Homo sapiens: one gene and its partners. The protein of the gene in region 1 interacts with the protein of each later gene in a biochemical or structural test. Each region holds a gene or a part of one and is shown on either strand. Other genes may lie near its edges. The genes, in order: USP5, UBTD2, RFFL and USP28.

Region 1 (5,648 bases):
ATAAGACAAATAATACTAAGCCTGGGAGTTGGGAGGCCAGGATGCTGGTCCTAGATCTACCATAAATAATCTATGGACAGGGCAGGGGGCCTAGAACTTGTGAGACAGAATGATTTTATATTCCTGTGAGTCTCAACTTCCTTATCTAGAAAATGAAGGTACATCACGAGTTCTCAAATGACAGTCAGGGACCTGTAAGACTCACGAGAATTAATTGTTTCAAGATTATCAAAATGAAAACATTTTACCAATTATTTTAAAAAACTACAAAAATCACTTTTGGTTGTAAATCATACCTATAACAATCAAAGAAGTCTTTTAATATTTTTAGTTAGTGCTTTCAAACTAGATAAATTTTGAAACATTGAAGGTGATTTTTTTTCCTCTTTCAGAGGAAACTTTGAGAAACACTAGTTTATATGTGTTAAAGCCCCTTCTTTTTCTAGCATTTTCTGTGTAACCTCCCTCATTCCAGCAGCCATACCCAGTTTCTTGGGCACCCAGTCTAAGCCGAAGGTGAACTTCTTGATCTGGATGACCAGGTAGTCAGGGAATGAGGCAAATCGTGTGGTCCTAGGGAAGAGAGACTGTGCTGGTACCCAGACAATCCCCAGGGTTTTCCTCTCCTGAAACTCCCACCTGGGGTTCAGCCCCTCATGGGTAGAAGTCCCAATAACCCAGAAGATCCTCCATATTCTTCTCTTCCCCTGGGCAGGTGTCTGATGCCTGTCCTCGGCCAACGAGGAGCAGTAGAGGCCAGAAGGAAGGCTGTCAACAAAAAAAAGAAAAAGAAAAAAGCCCAGGCATGGTGGCTCATATCTGTAATTCCAGCACTTTGGGAGGCCAAGGCAGGACGACTGCTTGAGCCCAGGAGTTAAGAGACCAACCTGGGCAACATAGCAAGACCCACACGTAGGGAAAAAAACATAGCAAGACCCACACATAGAAAAAAAAAAAAAACCCACACAGAGAGGAAGAGCTGTTTCACTGGCAGGAGCAGCAAAGGGCTGGGTAGCTGACTCCCCGAGACCAAAGCCCTTTTTCAGGTCTCACACCCATGCCAGGTGCCAATGGCTAGGCTCAAAGTGTGGCTATTTGCTGGAAATCCAAATTCTGCCCACAGCTGATCCTAAGTGCCTGTGCTCAGCCATGACTGAGGGGCAATGAAGAGAGGCTACACTACAAAGAGACCCTGTGCCACAGAAGAGGGAGTGGTTGGGGCAGGACAAGGTGACAGATAGAGTCAGTACCCGTGTCCCCCCTACCAGGGCCCCTTGGTTCCATCAGGGCCAGATTACCAGCCCAACTGATTCAACCCTGAGGTTCCAACCACAAAGGGATGAAAGAACAGGGAAGAGACAGAAGTATCCTCTGGGATAGCTCTGCCATAGACCCACAGCCTCAGGCCCCGACCAGAGGACTTACTTGACAGCTACTGACTTGGCCTGCAGGGCCGTGCTCCAGAAGTCATCGACCTGCTCAGGGGCCCCGTAGGCCTCCAGGCAAGAGCTGAAGGGCACCTGGGCCCGAACCAGTTCTGGCAGTGCCATCTTCTCCTCTTCGGCTTGCCGCTTCTTCTCCTCGTACTCCAGAAGCTCCTCTGGTGACAGAATGGGTTGGTGGATCCTTCGGAGGGTGCTGCTTCTTTGCCTCCTTAGCCTCTCCCTACTGGCTCTGTGTCCGTATTTCAGTTCCTCTACCCTTCCAAAGCACCCCTGACACATGTCCAATATATCTCGCCTGTTTCCATGCAGCTCTGCTAACAAGCTGAGTGTCCACTGGACGAGGTTAATCTACCTACTCCTGGTGGCCCAGACTGGAACCTTGGCTGGTGAAGCAGGGCATTCCCTGGGCTGTGCTCCCATGAGGTGCCCAAGCATTCCTCCTAGACCTTAGCCTCCCACCGTGCCACGGCCTTGCTGATGGAGCAGCCTACCTTTGTTAAGGGCTGCATCCATGGGCACAGGCAGCTGCATGATGTAGTCAACTCGCTGGGTGTACTTCACCTTCTCTGTGGCCAGGCACTTGATCTTTTCCTCCACCAAGAAGCGGAACACTTCATTAGGATTTTCAGAGCTCCGGCAATTCCTCTATGGGAAAGAGGCAGGGTAGGGAGGTCTGGGCAGCCAGGGAACAGAATGGGGCCTGAAAGGTTCATGGGAGAGTCAGGGAGAGAAGGCAGACTACCACTCGGAACTCAGGGACACAAGAGCAGAGCAGAAACCTTCCCTAATTCACCAACCCCTCCCCATTTCTGGCCCCATCCCTGCACTGAGGGACTGTGTTAGAACACGCTTGTATTTTTCTTTATAAGCAGCAAGTATTCTCTTATCATTGTCTTTGGGCATAATCTGAATTGGGCTTCAAGCCCATCAAGGGTAGGGATCATCACCTTCACTGTCCTCCTCAGGTGCAAGCACTGTTCACAGGGACACAGACTGTTGGGGTTCAGGGATGGGACTGGGTTGGGGCTGATAGAGGGAGAAATGGGCAGGAAGGAGAGCGAGTAAATTGCAGGAAGATGGGGGTGTGCCATCTTGCCAGCCCTTACCTCCACCATGTTGATAAGGTGAAGGAAGAACTCCTGGGCATCCTGCTGCCGGTTGGTGGAGAATTCAGGGTGGCCCTTGCCGATGAGGGCCTTGAACATCCGAGGGGCAATGCCATCTTGAACTTCCTGGGAAGAGTCAGGGCAGGGACTCAGCTGGGGCTCAGTGGCCATCCAGGGGCCTTCTTTAGACATCTCCCAGACCTCAGCTTCCCCACAATCCCAGGGCCTGAAAGGGACAGGGTCCTAGACGCACCTTCTGTTCTGGCACCCGCTCCCCATCGCCCGACTCCGGTACTGGCTTGGAATACTCCCCGGAGAGAAGGCCATGGCCCAGCTTGGCCCTGCATTAATATCCAAGAAAACATTTCACTTCAGTCAACTAACGACCCTGTGTGTCCCCAGCTCAACCCCCTGCTCGTGGCTCTCCCTAGCTAACTCTCAACAACGTGAAAAACCTTAGATTCTACAGGAACCCAGCTCAAGACAGACAACACGTCCAGAAGACAGTCACCCGAATGCTCCTAATAGGCCAGTGGTGGCCGTGCACGGTGGCTCACGCCTGTAATCCCAGCACTTTGGGAGGCCGAGGTGGGCAGACCACGAGGTCAGGAGATCGAGACCATCCTGGCCAACATGATGAAACCCCGTCTCTACTAAAAATACAAAAAAAATTTAGCTGGGCGTGGTGGCATGTGCCTGTAGTCCTAGCTACTCAGGAGACTGAGGCAGGAGAATCACTTGAACCCAGGAGGCAGAGGTTGTAGTGAGCCGAGATCGCGCCACTGCACTCCAGCCTGGCAACAGAACAAGACTCCGTCTCAAAAAACAAAACAAAACAAAACAAAAAAAGGCCAGGGGTTAAAGTGCTGTGCCCCCCAGGCGGTCAGGGAGGAGGAAGGTATACGGCCATGACTGTCAACAGCTTTCCTACATAGGACCTGGTTACATACACCTGGGTGCTGAAATCCTGGGTAGGGTCCGTCGGGGCATTCTGGAAGATCTTCTCCAGCTTATCCACATACCTAAAAGTCAAGGGAAGGACAGTTGGAGGGGCTCTGGCCTGAGCGCCGAGGAAAAGGGAAGGAAGCAAACATTTACTAACTCTGTGAACGGGCTCCCCTCAAGAGTGGGGAGTTGCTGTGGGTGAACCTTGGAGTCGCTTCTCTCCAGCAACCTGCCTGTTCTCCCCTTCTCAGCTATGTCCAATGTGCAAGCACGCTCGGCGGCAGAGGAGCCGGGGAGGGGGAAGGTAGCCTGGGATTAGGATAAGTGCAGTTCACGTTCTATTGGACAGAACCTGTTGACATGTTCTGAGCATTCACATTCTAATTGTTCCCCAAATTCGAAAGTAAACTCATTTCTGCTGAGAACCTGCCTTTATTCTTAGTGTGCCAAGCCCCCCTCCTCCCCAAGTGCTACATGTCCATGTTAGGTGCTCATCTGATGTCACTGCCCTAAAATAAAGACCACCTGCTAACCCTTGAGTCTGTCAGAAGGCCACAGAGCCCTGGGACTTGGCACTCTGCACTATCAGTGGGGTTTGTGTGTTGGGGTGCTGGTGGTGCAGCTCCCTAACTTGCTCCCCTCACAGCATGTCAGCCAGAGTGTGACAGGAATTATTCTTTTTTTTTTTTAAGAGAAGACAGGGTCTCGCTATGTTGCCCAGGCTGGTCTCAACCTCCTGGGCTCAAGCAATTCTCCCATCTTGGCCTCCCGAAGTACTGGGATTACGGGTGTGGGCCAACACACCCAGCCGATAGGAACTACTCTAAGACTAGAATCAAACACAGAGGTGCTGAGGGAAGCTGAAGGAGGAGTATGCCCAGAGGGTGCTGACCAGGAGGGGGCCTGGGGAAGGAGAGGGCACTACTCACTTCCTCTGGAAGTCAGGGATGCTGAAGAGCACCTGGACCACAGAGTTGAGGTAGCAGCTGTTACCCAGGTTCCGGATGCCTGTGTAGCCAGGCCCAAACAGGGGCTTGAGTGGCACACCTGACTCCTGGATCAGCTCCCATTCACCAATCCGCTGGTTCATGTCTATCTCCAACTCAGTCATCGTCTTGTCTGTCTGTGTGAGAAGGGGCACTTCAGACTGAGTGAGAAACTCAACCCTGTAGTTTTTACCTCGATCTCTCACTGAGTCTAGGATGATACTCAACTGTGGCCTAGAATTTGTGGAATTACAGGCTCAAACATGGGAGGTATGTTGAGTATCGTCCAGTTCAAGTTCTGGAAGGCCACACATAATTGTCCCAGAGGCCCGTTAGTCATCAGGGCCTCTGCTTGAATGAGGAATAAAATTTCCTTCTACCTGAAATGTTTTTCCCATCCTTAAGTTACCCCTAACCTCCTTCACATTGTCAGTTAAGCATCGCTTCCTCAGGGAAATGTCCCTGATCCCTAAACTAGGCCAGGCCACCCTGCTGTCAATTACTGTAGTACCCTCCGCCTCTCTTTCACAGTGCCCACCAGTTTGCAACTATTCACTTATTTATCTGGGAATGTGACTAATGTCTGCCTTTTCTTCTAGAGTAGAACTCTTGTAAGCAAAAACCACATCTGTCTTATTCACACAGCCTCTAGCACATAGTAGGTACTCAGTACTATTCACTGAATAAATGATTTTAGATATTTAAAAGAAGCCTGTGTATCTTGGGGATGGGGTTAACTAGAAGATTTCTCCAAAACCCTACCTCAGCCTCAGGCAAAGAGGAAGGGCCCTCACAGGGGCAGGAAGTAGAAGAATCTGAAGTTGAAGGGGGTCTCACCTTCTGCATCTTCAGCATGTCGATGCCGAAGTGGGACAGGTGCTCAGCCAGGCTGGGGTCCAGGACCATGTCATCCTCATCATATGAGTACACGTCTAGAGCAGGAGGCAGGAAGAGAATCAGGGGAAGTGGCTCAGGACTAGCCAGGCCACCATCCCATCCCTTGCACAGAAGGGACTTGAGGGGACAGAAGGAGAGCCAGTAAGGTCCACCCTCTTGGTTCCCTTGAATATGAGTAATATGAGTGCGGTCATGGCCCTTCTGGGGCTGACGGTCAGGGAAGACAGATGAAACCGGGTGAGGGTTGGAATTACTTGTGATTCTGATTC
Region 2 (5,648 bases), on another chromosome or scaffold:
GTTAATTTCAGAGTTCAGGAAATAAGATCATCAGCACTACTATTTATTAAGTGCTTTTTGGATACCGAGCACTCTGATCAGCAACTTACATGTATTATTATTACATTTAATCAACATAACCATCCCAAGAGGTAAGACAGTTATTATCCATATTTTACATATGAGAGAATTGAAGCTTACAGAAGATGTGATTTGCCCAAAGTCACATAGCTGCAAGTAATACGGTAGGGACAGAAGTAAGACCAGAACTGATATCGAAGGCTGAACTAAATAATAGTCAAGTCTATGTAATAATTTAAACTTAAAATATAAAGTGCTTTGGGATATTTAAGGGGTAGTACAACACAATGTGCCCAACGTAAAATTTATTTTTTTCCTTATTTTTTTTTTTTTTTTGAGACGGAGTCTTGCTCTGTCGCTCAGGCTAGAGTGCAGTGACGCGATCTTGGCTCACTGCAAGCTCCGCCTCCCAGGTTCATGCCATTCTCCTACCTCAGCCTCCTGAGTAGCTGGGACTATAGGCGCCTGCCACAAGGCCTGGCTAATCCTTTGTATTTTTAGTAGAGACGGGGTTTCACCGTGTTAGCCGGGATGGTCTCGATCTCCTGACCTCATGATCTGCCCGCCTCGGCCTCCCAAAGTGCTGGGATTACAGGCGTAAGCCACTGCACCTGGCCCAAAGTAAAATCTCAAACATGTAATTACACAAAAAAGATGGAAAGAATTTCGGCAATACCACTAAGCCAGTCTAGGTAAAAGCATACAATAGCCTAGTTATAAACTGATGGTGAGTTAGAGTACATGACAAAACAAAATTATAAGGTCCAAGAAATATTGACAAGATTCAGATATGAACAAAAGAAGTCAATCAAGGGCATCAGTGACAATATTAACACCCAGAATGTTATCACAGAGTTTTGAAAGAGAAAGGCTCAGATATTGGCTTGATTATTCCATGCTTAAGGAGAAAATATTCCTTAAACATAGAAGGCAAATAGAGGGTCATCTAATAATTCTTGAATTTCTGAGAGTAATTCTCCCTGATCTGCTGGTAGGCAGGGCTGCCGGGAACATTTTCCACAGAGAAGCAGAAATGAGGGACTTCGGTCTTTAGTGATCTGAGCCCACATCCAGTAGGATATGCATGAGGCCCAGCCTTACATGCAACAGAATTATTTTGGCTCCATGAAGTTTTAAACAAGGCTACAATATACAGAATGCAACCAGGTATTCCAGTAGGTAATTATAAGTACAAAATAAGAAATTCAAAGTTCCAACATTCTGGATCTCACACAATCACACATACATGACTCTTCTTCCACCCACATACAGGTCTATAAAACATATATTTTCCTTGAAAAACAGAGGATATGGACATCAAAAAGAGAAGGATGATAAAACTATCTGTAAAGGAAGACTCCTTCCCGTTATATTATATAAAGGTGGTATGTGAAGACGATAATTACAAAACTGAAAAAGGTAAATGGACTAAGATGATGCCCACCACCTCCCAACCCACAATCACATAAAAGTAAAGAATTTAGAGACTATCCATGAAAACTGAGACTAAAGAGTCATACTGAGGCCAGGTGCAGTGGTTCACGCCTGTAATCCCAGCACTTTAGAAGGCCAAGGCAGGCAGATAGCTTGAGGCCAGGAGTTCGAGACCAGCTTGGCCAACATGGCGAAACCCTGTCTCTACCAAAAAAATACAAAAATTAGCTGGGCCTGGTGGCACATGCCTGTAATCCCAGCTACTTGGGAGGCTGAGGCATGAAAATTGCTTGAACCTGGGAGGTGGAGGTTACAGTAAGCCAAGATCATGCCACTGCACTCCAGCCTGGGCAACAGAGTGAGACCCTGTCTCAAAAAAATAAAATAAGTTACCAAAAGAAAAAGACTCACTGTCATAAAAAAAAAAAAAAAAAGTCACACTGAAAATGGCATTCTATTATAAATTCTTCAAATGTAGGAGGGATCACTTTTATACATGTATAGAAAAAGTGATCAGTGGGTGCTCAATAACATTAGTAACAGAAGACTATGCTAATAAACTTTCATAATAAAGAACAGGCAGCTATAAAAAAAAGGAATGTTTCTTGGAAGCACAATTAATCAGAAAACTAATGGTGATTTGGAATCTGGCAAGGATATAGTAAGTTAAGTATCTTTTGGACAGGCACAGCAGCTCATGCTTATAACCTCAGCACTTTGGGAGGCCAAGGCAGGAGGATTGCTTGAACCCAGGAGTTCGAGATCATCTGGGCAACATAGTGAGACCATGCCTCTCCAAAAACAAAACAAAACAAAACAAAAAAACAAAAAAAAAGTAGCCAGGCATGGTGATGCGTGCCTGTAGTACCAGGTACTTGAGAAGCTGAGGTGGGAGGATCTCTTGAGCCTGGGAGGTCGAGGCTGCAATGAGCTGTCATCGTGCCACCACATTCTGGCCTGGATGACAGAGTGAGACCTGTCTCTTAAAAAAAGGGACTTTGGGAGGCTGAGGCGGGCGGATCACCTGAGGTCAGGAGCTGAGACCAGCCTAGCCAACATGGTGAAACCCTGTCTCTACTAAAAATACAAAAATTAGCCAGGCATGGTGGGGAAGCTGAGGCACGAGAATCACTTGAACCTAGGAGGCGGAGGTTGCAGTGAGCTGAGTGCACCACTGCACTCCAGCCTGCTGGGCGACAGAGCAAGACTCTGTCTCAAAAAAGAGAGAGAGAAAGAATAGAATAAAATAAAAATCTTTCATGTGACATACAGTGAAAGGACATAAAGCAGATGGTTCAACAATGAAAGTCCCTGTTCCTCTAAGAATGTAGATAAAGGGACGTACTAGGGATTAAAACAATGAAGGTACAATAATGAATAGAATCAATGCAAGGTGGTTATTACATAAATCTGAAAAGACAACCTTGAAAAATATTAAGTTGAAAAACTAAAGAGAATACTGAGAATATTAATACAGAAATAAAAAATGTAAATACAAAATTAACACCTAAATCTCAATGTAGCATGAAAAATTCTATGTTTCTCATCAAGGAGACCAAACAAGAGTATGTACATGGACCAGCATATGTGTATCCCCAGAAACATTCAAAGCTTACAGTTATCCTTAAAAGAGTCACATTCCTACGCAAAAGAGAGAAGTTCCTAAGAATGCTCAGGGCTACAATCATGGAAAACTGTCCTTAAAAACATGCGGGACTCTCTTCTAAGTTTGGGTTTGCTTATTATGCCAAAAATAGGCTTGATGAGAAAGTATAATGACTAAAAGGAGCATCCTCTGAGTCTCTACAGCTTACAAAATCTAAACTGAGACTCTATCTCTAGCGCTGCTAGGAGGAAACCAGTGAAGTGGAAGCTCCAATAGATTGGCAGGGTGATGAGGCTGGTGAGGTGGGGGTGGGAGGGTGGAGGGAAGAGGTCTTCATGGAGGACTAGGTTACACGGAAACTTTTTAGATGATCAAGAGTTCTTTTCTGAAATTAAGATATATTTAAAAAATATATACGTATACACAAACACACAAAGTAAAACCTGTCTCCAGCTGAAAGATGTACAAGAAAAAAAGAGGAATGCTATTCCTTGCTACATTAAAAAAAAAAGTTAGAATAATTCATAGCAAGGAAAAACACTCTCCCATTTGGTTTCTTGCTATCAGAAACAAAGTTGATTATGTTTCCTCTGTCCTTGAGGAACACCAAACCTACCATGTGGTAATGTTATGTTTGCACCATCAATGATTGCTTGTGCCAGTTCATGATCATTGCTCTCAAAAGCATGTGCAGCAGCCTTCAAGGCATCCCAAATCTCTTTCCGGCCTTCAAAAGCTGGTGCTGTATCCCAAAATTCATCCCTCTTGCTGCGTAGTTGTCCATCTGTCATAGGATAATCGCTTTTCCATTTTGGTTTCTCCTTTTTCAAAGGCTGGTTACGACCTAGAGCAACTGAAAAGAAAAATAAAAGACTGAGATCAAACCCAAAATTTATAAAATATGTATCAAAAGTTATCTGGTCATTCCTCTCTTGGATTATTTCATCAAAATCACAGCCAGAAATTTACCTGCTAGCTAATTTGTGCATCCTGAAATTCCTCTAACACATTTTGGAACTACAAAAGTGAATAGAGACATTAGACTGCTCTATGCAAAACAAATTGGTAGCTCTTTTCCACTCAGTACACCCTCCACAGGATCATTAAAAAGAATTACAGGCTGAGTGCAGTAGCTCAACACCTGTAATCCCAGCACTTTGGGAGGCTGAGGTGGAAGGAAGGCTTGAATCCAGGAGTTCGAGACTAGCCTGGGCAACATGGTGAGACCCCCATCTCTACAAAATACACAAAAATTAGCCTGGCATGTTGGCATGTGCCTGTGGTCCCAGCTACTTGGGAGGCTGAGGTGGGAGGATCACTTGAGCCTGGGAGGTTGTGTTTGCAGTGAGCCATGATCATGCCACTGCACTTCAGCCTGGGCGAGAGTGAAACCTCATCTCAAACAAAACAAAACAAAACTAAAGAACCCCAGAGAATTATAGTTGTAATGAATGTACCACTCTGGTGGAGGATGCTGATAATCAGGGAAAGGAGGCTATGTATGTGTAGGCACTGGGAGTACATAGGAAATCTCTGTACCTTCCTCTCAATTCTGTTATGAATCTAAAACTGCTCTAAAAAAATTTTTTTTTAATACAATGAAAGTTTTGTTTTGTTCATTTTAAAAGAACTGCCTAGAAGGTAAGTGTTTCATCAGACTGTAAGAGCAGGATATGAGAGTCAAGAGACACCACGAAAGAGAGGCAAGATACTTGGGGAAGCAAACGGCAATAGTAGCTTGGACACATGAAACCAGGAAGTAGGAACTGAGAAAATCCAAAGAGGTAAAAGATTGCTTTTCAGTGCCCAGAGAAAGAAGAGCCAAACCACCAGAATCATGAACAAACTGATTAGAGGAATGCTTCCTCTAGCATTCTACTCTCTGGACTTTAGTCAAGGAACTGTAAATACCTTTCTCTGGAACTCAAACAGGAACTAATTTACAAAGGGTAGAATCAGTACTTTAGTTTTTTTGAGGAACTGGGAGTAAAAGAGATAATCTTTGATGCTAGGCCAAGGGATTAGCTCCGAACCACAAGGAGCAGAAGAACTATGATACCCTACCCTAGTTTCAACCCAAGAGAAGAAGAAAACAGAGGGCAAGTGGCAGCATCTCCCCTTAGACAATGTTATGTAGTAGTAGCGCTGGAATAAGCCTGATGCAGCATCCTTGCACCCAGATAACCATCTGGTGTATTATCTGTGATCTATTTCCATGGGTCATACTGACCTACAGAGCCATTCTTATTTATGGCTCTGTAAGATTATACAGTGCTATAGATAGGGAATAGTTTGATAGATGGGATAGAAGATAGAAAGAAAATTGAAGCTGGATGAAAAGATAAGAAGAGTGTTGGAAAAGAGTGGGTGGGAAATAAATGACACAGCGAGTGGGAAGGAGAGAGGGTGTGTGTCAAAATTCAATGTTCTATATTTAATTGCAGAAAGAATACCAATTTTAAAGAAATCACTCTCAAACTGGTTCTAAAGCATCCATGAAATTGACTACTCCCTCATTGGCCCAGGGCCAGATGAAATTTGGACTATG
Region 3 (5,648 bases), on another chromosome or scaffold:
GATTTTTCAGCTGCATGGGAGGGGTAAGGGGTGGGAGGTGTCTGCCAAGGCGTTTAGGGTTTGCATAGTTCATCCATTGGTAATGGGAAAACACTCTGCTTTCCTGATCATGTGTTTTGTGCTTGGCCACGCTTCTGCAGCAAACTCTTAAGTCCTCCAGCTCCTCTAGGGGTGTAAAGACTGTGAGGGCTCAAATACATCACCTACTCATTGCATGGTCCTTCCTAAAGAGCCTAGAAAATGGTTTCTCCTGCTGGGTGTGGTGGCTCACGCCTGTAATCCCAGCACTTTGGGAAGCTGAGGCGGGCGGATCATAAGGTCAAGAGTTCAAGACCAGCCTGGTGAACATGGTAAAACCCCGTCTCTACTAAAAATACAAAAATTAGCCTGGTGTGGTGGTGGGCGCCTATAATCCCAGCTACTCTGGAGGCTAAGGCAGGAGAATAGCTTGAACCTGGGAGGTGGAGGTTGCAGTAAGCCAAGACTGTACCACTGCACTCCAGCCTGGGCAACAGAGTGAGACTCAAAAAAAAAAAAAAAATGCTTTCTCCCTGACCTGCCCCCAAAAATCAGTGGGCTAGGAAAGGGAATGAAAGTAGGGTCTCCTCACTCCCCACCAACCTGGGAAATAAAGACTTGAACTGTCGGCTTACAACAGAATCCAGTCTCATTCAGTACCTCCTGAAAGCTCTTAAGTGCTCTGTCTTAACATTTGCTCTCCAGGAACTTCAACAGCAGTCTGGCCAGAGAAGAGCACAGGCTCTTTGCCTAAATCTATTTCTTCAATGAAACCAAATTTAAAACTACCATGGATAAGGGAGGGATTTCATTTTCAGCGAAAAGTGGCTTAAGACTTCTAGTTGGGAAAAGGATCAGAAGCCAAGCCAAAATTAAGGAGAAGGCCACTGCCTCCACCCATTGCTTCCCCTTTCCGCATAAACTAAGGATGGTGCAAATCAGGTCCCAAGAGAAGCAGCAGCAGGGATTATGCACGCACTATCCCTTGCAGACAGAAACAAATTTCCCAGCAGTTTGGGAGCCTGATGTTTTGTTGGCTCCCAGAGTCAGGTCAGGAGACCAACAGCTTCCAATCCCAGCATTTAATGAAGTGGCTTTTAACAACTTTGAAATTTTTCTATAGCATTTGTATTTCATTTCTCACCAAAGATAAGTTTACTGGTCTAAAATCTGTCCTAAGGACCACTATCGGTCTGGTAAACTAACATTTTTGGTCCAAAGAAACAAATGGATTTAGGCAATGTAGCAAGAGACTTTAGCAAAGATAGTTAAAGCACAGAAAGCCGGAGAGACCAGAAATTTAAATCCGAATGTGCTGGGGAGGAGGACTTCTGATTGATGAAACACATGGGCAAGCATCTCCCATATGGGGTGGGGATGGGTTGGGTACAGGAGGAGGGGTGAAACTGTCTAGGTTCAGGGAGGAAGACAGGACCCAAGTTCTGGAAAGTTCTCTGTTCATCAGTTACCATCATCACTCCAAGATCACTGAACCAAGAACATACCCATGTGATTTATACAAGTTCCCACTGGCCTTGGGCTTTGCCAGCCAAGAGGTACACCCCTGGGAAGACAGGCATGCTCAGGGGTGACATGGCATCTTGCTTGACCTGGTTTTGGGAACCCTGCAATATTTCTACTAGCTTGCTCCTCTGCAAGCTGGCCAACCCTGAGCCCAGACACCCCAGGCTATTTCCCTGTAAGGCACTGAAGAAACCGATGCAAGCTCTCAGGACCGGAAGACATGCACAGCTCGGATTACATACTGCCGGCAGATGGGACATTCATTCATGCGCTTGCCACACTTGGTACAGGTTACCATGTGGCCACACTCCAGAAGAACACAGTCAATGGGTGAGTCCATGCAGATCTTACACAGGTTCTCCTCCAAGCCTGATGGTACTGCTCCCCCTGTACAAACACACAGGGCAGAAAAAAAGGGGCAGAGGAGTGAGGAGAATGTCTTAAGTGTATAGGGGTGACTGGGGGAGGGAGGTGGGAGATAACAGGTACATTGTAAACAAAGTCTCAGTGCACATGCTTCCCTCAAATAGAGCTCCTCCGAGGAAACATTTCCTCAATAACCAACTCTGGTTACTTGTTTAATCCACACTTCATCCCCTCCAACAGGTAAAGATTTGAAAAGTACACAGCACTTGTGGATCAGACACATCCCAGAACATGAGAACTAAGGCAAAGTTCTCAAAGCTTAAAAGAAATAATTTTCAGACTGTTGGGGCTGTAATATAGTGAGTGTGTGAGTGGCACGTAGGGACTCATTATCCCCTGAGGCAGAACAGGCTAAAAAGATAAAACTGGTTCAGAAAAGTTTAGATAGAAATGGAACTGTGATGAATGGTTCATTAAGGATCACAAGGCTTTATCTATAAACATATCCTCCATTTAATAAAGTCAGGGATCATGGGGGACCCCTCTGCTATCTCACAAACTACTCCCAGGTTTCCTGAGGAAACTTCCTGGTGGAGAAACTTGGCAGAGATTACTGCTCCCTCTTTCTACCCCCACAAAACTTTTTTATACCCCCATGACTGCTTATCACATTGGATTAAAATTTTGAGTTTGCCTACTTACTCCCAGAGTAGACTATGAGCTCTTTAATTCAACATATTCAATCAATTTTTACAATTATATGCTTAGCATTTATTCCATGCTCCAAGGTTAGATATTCATCTTTGAAGCCCCCAATGCCAGTTATATGGTAGGTACTCTAAATGTCTGATGAATGAACATCTTCCCAAGGGAATGACAACATCCCACATTTACTGAATGCTTACCGTGTGCCAGGCAGGGTCCTGAAAGCTTTGCATGTGTTAACTCACTGAAGCCTCACAAAAACTATAAAGTAGGACCTCTTGTTATTTTCATTTTATAGATGAGGCCAACTGGGGCAAAAAAGTTAAGTGGCTTGCCCAAGGGCACAAAGCTGCTAAGTCGAGGAGCCAGGATTCAAACCCAGGCAGGCTGGCCCCACAGCTCCTGCTCTAGAATGGCCTTCTGCCTAACTGCCCTAAGAGTAGAAACTATCCAGACAGTATCAACTGCTGAGTGCACAGGGTTCTCAATAAATGCTAACTGGCTTGTGTCACTAGCAGAATATAGTGGGCATGACCAGTATCCTAGTAGAGCTGACCCAAACAGAAAAAATAATGTTCAAAAGCCCAGCCATCTCCAATATGTCTTAAATTGTAGCCTGAAGTAGGTACCCATAAAAAGGAACTGATCTCACAGAAGTCACCTCTACCATCTGGGGGTTGGCCAACCCATAGAGGAATTCTCCCTTATTGCATCTATACTTTCTCTTTTCTGGACTATTAAAAAGTCAAGAAATACTTCCCCCTAGGAGGTAGGCTGGGTGTGAAAGGGAGTGAAACCCATTTGCCTCTTTTGAGGTGCTGTTGGTCCTAACAGAGGTTTGGAGACTATACAAATACCTAAGATGAATGGGAATAATTTATAATTTTCAGTTACTCATTCTCTCAGAAGTAACAACAAACACATTAACTCAGTTGTCAGCATTCTCCCAGGGAATCAGAAAAAGAAAGGAAGCACCAAGTAGATCAGCCTGATCTTGGTACCGGTGATGCTGGGGGGTTGGAGGGTGGAGGTGGGTCTAGAACTCCAAATGGTTTTGGGGAATTGAGAAAAGCTCAACTGTTTTTTATGTCTGATTAGAAGTAATCAGACATAAAATTGCCCATTCTGAGCAAAAGGCCATTTTACTAAATAAATTTGGGAAATCTTCTGAAATAAGTTTTAAAATGCTGCAGGCTAGTCCAACACTACTCTTAGAACGTTCTCTCTTGGAAGGGAGTTCACAACCATATACCCTTGAGGCTTTTGAAAACACATAGCATATTTTAGAATGTCCCCACAGATGGTCAGGAGTTCTGCAGTGTGTTCTGGGAGTACCTGAGGGCCCAGTGGTGGTCTTTAAGTGAGTGGCAGCTGAGCTGAGATATATAGCTTGTGCCCAGAGAGTAGCACATGTGTTAGCTCCAGAGTAGCTCTAACCATTACCAGCCCTGTACAAACAGGGCTGTCTCAGGTCACCACCCTTTCTTTTTGGTTAGTACCAGAAGCTGCTAAACACCCTGATTCCCCAGAAGGTGTACACAGAGACCCTCCCTACCCAGACCAGAACTGAAAACACCAAGATTTTAAAAAATGAGCTGAGTGTGATACATGCCACCCCTCCTCTGTTTCAGTGTTTTACAAATGTTGGCTTATGAGCTCAGGTAGCCCAGGGACATGCACATCAGTCAGTCCGCCCCTACGTATGCTCCACTCTGCTTCCTGCACAGCGAGCAGAGAGAATTTCTAAAGATGGTGAGAGGCCCCCTGGGTCTCAGTGAGTTTCCCACACACCCTCTCTCTGGGGGCTCAAATGCTCAGAATTCTTAGATTACTAAAGGGATTGGGGTTGAAGGAGGGGAAGGACAAAAGGGCCTAAGCCCATTCCCAAACAGAAACAACTACATACCGTTTTGGTCTTCGGCACCACTGACTGAAAAGGAAAGAGAAGGATGTCTGAATAGGTAAGGCATGATGGTACAAATACAGTCTCTTACTGCCCTGACATCATTTCTGAACTCTTACCACTCCCTGCTGGGAACCAGGCTTGCCAAGAGCCTAGATGGACATCTGCCCTCTACTCGCTCTACATGCTCAGAACTCACACAAAGCTCCTACTCGTGCATCTGGTCTACTTTTATTTTTTATTTTTTTGAGATGGAGCCTCACTCTCTTGCCCAGGCTGGAGTGCAGTGGCATGATCTTGGCTCACTGCAACCTCTTTCTCATGGGTTCAAGCGATTCTCCTGCCTCGGCCTCCTGAGTACCTGGGGACTACAGGCACATGCCACCACTCCCGGCTAATTTTTTGTTTTTGGTGGAGATGGTGTTTCACCATGTTGCCTATGCTGGTCTTGAACTCCTGATCTCAAGTGATCCACCTGCCTCAGCCTCCCAGAGTGCTGGGATTACAGGCATAAGCCAACACACCCAGCCTGGTCTACTCTTAGGAAAAGGTATTCCACCAGTTTGCACAAACTGCCAAGTAGAAGGATACTGTATATGTGCAATATCCTTTTCTATTTTGAAGTCAGCATTAAAGTCAAGAAAGAATGAACTATCTAGCTGTTTCAGTCAGTCAGAGAATCTGGATAAAGTTCCCACGTGGAGTCATCTGTTCTGTTCCCCAGGTCCTGACGACTGGAGAGAAGACTCTTGAAACAATCCCAAAGGGAAAACAGACTCCATGTCAGTAGGCCTCAGTCTGTAATCGGGTGAAGAGTCAGTCAGATGACCCCTAACACTGATGAATTTGAGCTACTGGTAGAAGAGAGCCTGAAACCTGACTTCAACCACTCTTACCAAGCAAGGAATCAGTATGTTGCTCTGTAGGAACCAAATCAACTGGGGATGGGAGGAAAGGAGAAGATTCTGTGGTGAAATAATTTCAGGAAATGCTAAGTTCAAAACAGCCAAAACACATTTCTCTTCTGCAGGACTTCTCTGCCTTTAATATAAAAATCTACCATAAATCAGTAATGAAGATATGAGGTATTTTTCCCTAAACTCATTTAACCACAGACCCAGATATTTTCCTG
Region 4 (5,648 bases), on another chromosome or scaffold:
TTCATTTCCTTTTATACTGTCTATATTTTTTAAATCTATTATTATATAATAGTAAGTTGTAAATTTTTTAAAAAGCAGTACAAGACTGTTCTTCTCCCTGAGCAGTACAGATTTTCCCCAATCTATAGATTCTGCCAAGATACTTTTACCTGCATTGAAGTAGGGTAGTTTGTCATTAATGTACATCAGACAGTAAGCACTAACATTTCTCAGGCCTCCATAGGAATCTCTTTCAACTTCTTCCCAGGAAGATTCAGTAACAGAGATGTCATTGTACTTGAGCCAGCTCTGTCGGGGTTGATTATAGATATAGGCCCAATAGTGTCCAGCATTTGCTTGTCCTTCATGAACAAGAACTGCATGCAAGCGATAAGGCACCTGTAAGTCAGAATGTACATTCCCCAGTCAGGTGAAGCAAAGTAATCTGATAAAGTTTAGGTTATTAAGAAATTACTGTTTATGATGTGATTAATGTGGGGTTCATATTAAAACATCTTGTTGATTCAAGATGAAGTCCACAAAAACACAGCCTTGGAATTGATCAATTATGTCTCAGTTCCAAAACCTTGAAAACCAGATCGCTGAACTACATGACCTCTCTGAAGACTCTTTCAACTCTAAACTCCTCAGATCTAAAACCAAACATAACCTAAACATATGCATCCTTCTAATTCAAAACTCTGTTTATCTAAAAATAGAATCACCTTGACCACTCATGCTGAAAATGCTTAGCATATTTGGGACCTACAAAGGTTAGCAGCTATTTTGTTCCATGCCTATTTTATTTGGCAACAAAATTTAAGTTAACATATTTAATTCAGCCACATGCTTCTTAGAGTTAAGTGACCACTTATCTATCTGGAGTGAAGACCCTTTTAATGACATACTTGTTTGTTACAACATTTGAAAAGCACATTTGTGTATTTTCAATATAGAGAAAATAGAGCAATGCTTAAATGCTAACTAAATACTAGTAAAAGAGATGAAAGTCAGTCACAGAATCAAATTAAATTTACACTTACTTTGACCTATTTTAATTACTGGTGAAGATTTTTGAATTAACACAAAAGAAAAAATGGGGAAGCCTGCGTTTTACATGGTGCATTCCTGTTAAGCAATGGGACTGTGCCTCAATGCCATTCTAGAAACAGGGCTCCCCTCCTCCAAGCCATTCTGCCCATTCCAGTCATTCATACAGAAGCCACTGAAAGTCCATGCCCCTAACCAGAATAGGTTCAGAGACACTCCTGGAGGCTCTTTACCCCTCCATTCCCAGAATTTATTCTAACAAACACTTCTGTGGATAGTTAAGAATTTCTGTCCTAACTCTCTTTTGGAATTTATTATTACAGAAATAAAGCTTGAACGCATGTTGTTAAATTAAAGATCTTGAAGAATCATGGAACTTTGGGAAAGAAAGGATAACTGTTCTCTAGTTCAGTTTTTCCCACTGCACTACTTAAAGTACCATTTTGTAAGTAATTTTTATTAGTATCTGACAGCAAACCTTTCTACAATATGAAAAAATTCCATGTGGCAGAATTCAAACAAGTATGTGTTAGGTCCTGTTTTTGGTAAAAGGTATATTGCTTTCTTTAGCCTAAAATAAAGAAACAGAACAACATCAATTTATATCTTAAGTTTATTCTTTTATCTTAGGGGGATTCCCATTGGGTTTAAAAGAAAACTATCAAATTTGATTTTTGTATCTACCATTAGCACATGCCTTGACTACTTTCCCATCAATTTTCATTCTACCTGACGAAGGAGAGGATCGCAGTACATCTGTTCAATAGTCTGAGTAGTACTTGCAATACAAGTCTTTAAATCTGTTTGGAAAAAGAAAAACAAAAGCTTCACTAAAATGATCTCATTCTATGTCACACAGGCTACTTTAACTAAGCAAAGAATATTGCTAGGGTCCTAATGATTTCAGCTTCCCTCTATGAACCACGAAGCAATATACAGTTTTAAAGCAGCTAGTACTTTAGGTTATGAAAGCTTTTAGTTCAATATAATTACATTAAGGTTTTAAAACATTATTTTTTATAATTGCCAAAATTTCTTAAAGAGTAAGCTGTTTAGGAAAAGATCTTAATGGGTCACTTGGCTGTAAAATGTATGCCTCAGACAGGATCTGAAATGAGAAAGCAGAACAAAGGGTAAGGCTAAATTTCTCTGAATAGGAATCTGGGAAGAATCTGTATTTTCCATCATCTTTTTGTTCCCTAGACAAAAGGAGACAGGAAGGGGGGTAAGGTTAGTCTGAGCAATATGGGCAATGAGGTCAAAGGGCTTTTTAAGAATACAATGCTGAATAATCCAATTTTACATTGTGCATACTGCTCAAATACCTCATTAACCTTCAGTAAAGCATGCTTCCTATAGAAAAGACTGAAGAGTAGAAGTCCAGAAAAGCTAAATGCTAAATCTGGGTCAACTTAAGCTGGAGTTCAGATAATCTACCACAGAAACAGAAATCAGTTGATGCAGAAAAATCTCAGCAAAGGTGATCATTTCCCAGAAATTTTGAGGGGGAGATCTTTCCATATCTGTATAATGGGGGTGTGTGAGCCAAGTTTACAGGGCACTAAAAGTGCAAAAGAAGTCACAATTACCATGTCAAAATTCAAAAGCATGGGCCAGACGTAGTGGCTCACACCTATAATCCCAGCACTTTGGGAGGCCAAGGCAGGCAGATCAGTTTTGGTCAGGAGTTTAAGACCAGCCTGACCAACATGGTGAAACCCCATCTCTACTAAAAAAAAAAAAAAAATCAGCCAGGTGTGGTGGTACATGCCTATAATCCCAGCTACTTGGGAGGCTGAGCCATGAAAATCGCCTGAACCCGGAAGGCGGAGGTTTCAGTGAGCTGAGATTGCACCACTGCACTCCAGCCTGGGTGATAGAGTGAGACTCCATCTCGGCGGGGGGGAAATTCTGTAGCATGTACAGTAATGTCAGGAAGTGTACCGAGGTGCTTAACCTCCAAATAGTCAAAAAACAGAAAAAGCAAAGAGTAACTGACAAATTTTAAAAGAGCCAACCTTGTATATCTTGTTCAATCTCACTCCTCCATCTCTGAAGACAGGTCTTAACAAAATTTATCTCCTCATCTGTGACTGTTCGTGGAGCTGGCTGTGAAGGCATTTCCATGGAAGACCGAGAAGATGTCAGTGGTTTAGACTTGGGTAAAGAATCTTCAGGAGAAGAAAAGGTACTTTCAACATCCTGAGAAGAGCTTTCTGTACTTGTACTGAGGAAGACAAAAATCATGCTCATATGATAATTTCCAAAAGATACCTTGGCCTAAATTATGTACTTTGGAAAGCAAGATGCTATATGAAAAAGTACAGGTATTCAGTGAGCATTAACTCTATAAAGGTACAGAGCCAACCTTTTTCTCTATCATCTCACGTACCACAACTGGCCTGTGAGGTAGATACTTTTCTATCCCTATTTTACCAACTGTGAGCCTAAGGTTTAAATAAATTAAGCAACATGCCCAAGTTCACCAAGCTGGAAGGTAATGAAAATGAATCCAAAGCCAGATCGGCCAGTCTTTAGCTCATGTTCTCTGATCACTGATTATTCCTTCCCATGAGGATGGGAAGAGAAGGAAAATGGAAAAGAGAAGACTAGGCCTGGAAGAATCAAGGAATCAACTACAGAGTTTACAAGATGAAGCCAACTAAAGTGACACTATCCTTCCTGGAACAAAATACACAGAAGGAAGAAAAAGGAAGCATCAGCTGAACATACAACTCACAGGAATACACACTAGGTGACACCTTGGAGAGTTCTGAGAGAAGGGCTTCAAGTCAAACAATCCTAGCTCTACTACTTTAGCTAAATACCCAAGGAAAAAAGTATTAATATCTCATCTACAAAATATAAATCTTAAGTTCTTTACGTCTTTTCTGTAAACTAACAGAGAATAAAGCATATCAAGTAAATGTTAATTTCTCTATTGTCAGAGTAAAACTGCAGGTCAACAAACCAGCAGGAATATAAAATAAGCTTCTAATTGTAGTTAGGTTTCTCTTTTACACCAAAGCTGAAGAATATAAACTTCCTTTACTTTGACTTAAAAAAAAACTCTCACTCCTGCCGGGTACGGTGGCTCACGCCTGTAATCCCAGCACTTTGGGAGGCTAAGGAGGGCAAATTACCAGGTCAAGAGATCGAGACCACCCTGGCCAACATGGTGAAACCCCATCTCTACTAAAAATACAAAACTCAGCTGGGCATGGTGGCACGCCTGTAGTCCCAGCTACTTGGGAGGCTGAGGCAGGAGAATCGCTTGAACCCAGAAGGCGGAGGTTGCAGTGAGCTGAGATCATGCCACTGTACTCCAGCCTGGCGACAGAGTGAGACTCCATCTCAAAAAAACAAACAAACAAACAAACAAAAAAACCTCACTCCCTCCTCCTCACTCTCTCACATGCACAAAATAATGGAGGAAATCTCTTTTCCCTAAGGTCCATACTTATGGAAAAATAAGCCCAACAAGGGAACAGATATCTCAATTTCAGAGGAGATTACACACATACACCTCCCTGTAATTTTTAAATCTAATACCAAGCACTATTATTTTATTTGATTAAATAGCCTGCCGAACCACTTTTTAAAAATTAAAACTTTACATTTCATAATATACATAAAAAGATTCTATTTTTACAAAAATTAAAAAATTTAAGTAGAATATAAAAAGTGAAAGAGCAGCCCCACTCCTATCCCCAGACTCATGTCACTCCTTAGAGATAATCATTCTTGACATTTGGTATGTTCTATCCAAATAAGCATTTCTATGCATACATGGATGAATAAATATTAATACGTGGGGCGGTGGCGGGGGATGTGTTGGGGAGAATAGTTAAGATTTTTTGACAAAAAAGTCTAACTTTTTATTGAGTATTAGTGTTTTTATTAGCCAGGTAACACATATCAAATGTCCTAGCTACCTTTCATGGCTCCTCTAGGCAATAAAGATTGTTGCACATGACTGGATGGAATAAAATCAGAGGGCTCCTGTGACTTTGCCTCCCTCTGCCTTTACTAGAGAAGCCCCTCTAAGCTGTCCTCTTATTTCTAGCCAGTTCTTTTTCAAGTACTAATTTTCTATTCAAGAATAAGTCTCTCTTTCCTTGATGTTTCTTAGTCATGCATACTTCAAGTGTGTGAGCATGAGATGTTTTGGAAGAGCAGGGCTTGAGGTTTCCTCTGAGAAAGGCCTTTAATGGCAGCTGGCTTGTAGTTCAAAACAAGGCATCACTGGGTGGAGCCTGAACACTATCCTGAACAGTTTGAGAAGCCTCTGAAATAACCCAACCATTCTACGGATAAGACAAATGCACTGGTGGGCCCACTCCCACCCAAGTGACAGTCAGCAAAACCCTTCCCTTTAAGACAAAGAGCTCACAGCTCCTGTGCTCTTATAGGTGACTGTCAATCAAGTACAAAGATGGTGCATAGTTTAAATTATACCAGAAAAACAATACATACCATTAAAAAAAAAATGTTTTCATTACCTTTCCTTGGATGTCTGGTCAGAAACCGAGCAGTGCACTGAAGAAAGTGGTAATGTCATATGTGTGTCACTTTCAGGTGGACAGCTTTCTGAGGCAGGTTTTGTACTAGCAAATTCA

The links.
Region 2: the proteins of USP5 (region 1) and UBTD2 are reported together in a solved structure, tested with the Homo sapiens proteins (one study listed by BioGRID).
Region 3: of the proteins of USP5 (region 1) and RFFL, one has a biochemical effect on the other in vitro, tested with the Homo sapiens proteins (one large-scale study listed by BioGRID).
Region 4: of the proteins of USP5 (region 1) and USP28, one has a biochemical effect on the other in vitro, tested with the Homo sapiens proteins (one large-scale study listed by BioGRID).

Annotation. Positions count from the first base shown.
Region 1 is NC_000012.12:6,857,395-6,863,042, reverse strand, and holds part of USP5 (ubiquitin carboxyl-terminal hydrolase 5), read right to left. Parts: intron 5,415-5,648; coding exon 5,320-5,414; intron 4,620-5,319; coding exon 4,426-4,619; intron 3,574-4,425; coding exon 3,502-3,573; intron 2,893-3,501; coding exon 2,805-2,892; intron 2,678-2,804; coding exon 2,552-2,677; intron 2,091-2,551; coding exon 1,937-2,090; intron 1,601-1,936; coding exon 1,426-1,600; intron 574-1,425; coding exon 485-573; intron 1-484. UniProt on the Homo sapiens protein: Deubiquitinating enzyme that participates in a wide range of cellular processes by specifically cleaving isopeptide bonds between ubiquitin and substrate proteins or ubiquitin itself.
Region 2 is NC_000005.10:172,230,406-172,236,053, forward strand, and holds part of UBTD2 (ubiquitin domain-containing protein 2), read right to left. Parts: intron 3,954-5,648; coding exon 3,717-3,953; intron 1-3,716.
Region 3 is NC_000017.11:35,010,221-35,015,868, forward strand, and holds part of RFFL (E3 ubiquitin-protein ligase rififylin), read right to left. Parts: intron 4,544-5,648; coding exon 4,520-4,543; intron 1,930-4,519; coding exon 1,748-1,929; 3' UTR 1-1,747.
Region 4 is NC_000011.10:113,812,127-113,817,774, forward strand, and holds part of USP28 (ubiquitin carboxyl-terminal hydrolase 28), read right to left. Parts: coding exon 5,532-5,648; intron 3,257-5,531; coding exon 3,048-3,256; intron 1,830-3,047; coding exon 1,759-1,829; coding exon of another isoform or gene 1,750-1,758; exon of another isoform or gene 1,629-1,749; intron 379-1,628; coding exon 150-378; intron 1-149. UniProt on the Homo sapiens protein: Deubiquitinase involved in DNA damage response checkpoint and MYC proto-oncogene stability. Involved in DNA damage induced apoptosis by specifically deubiquitinating proteins of the DNA damage pathway such as CLSPN.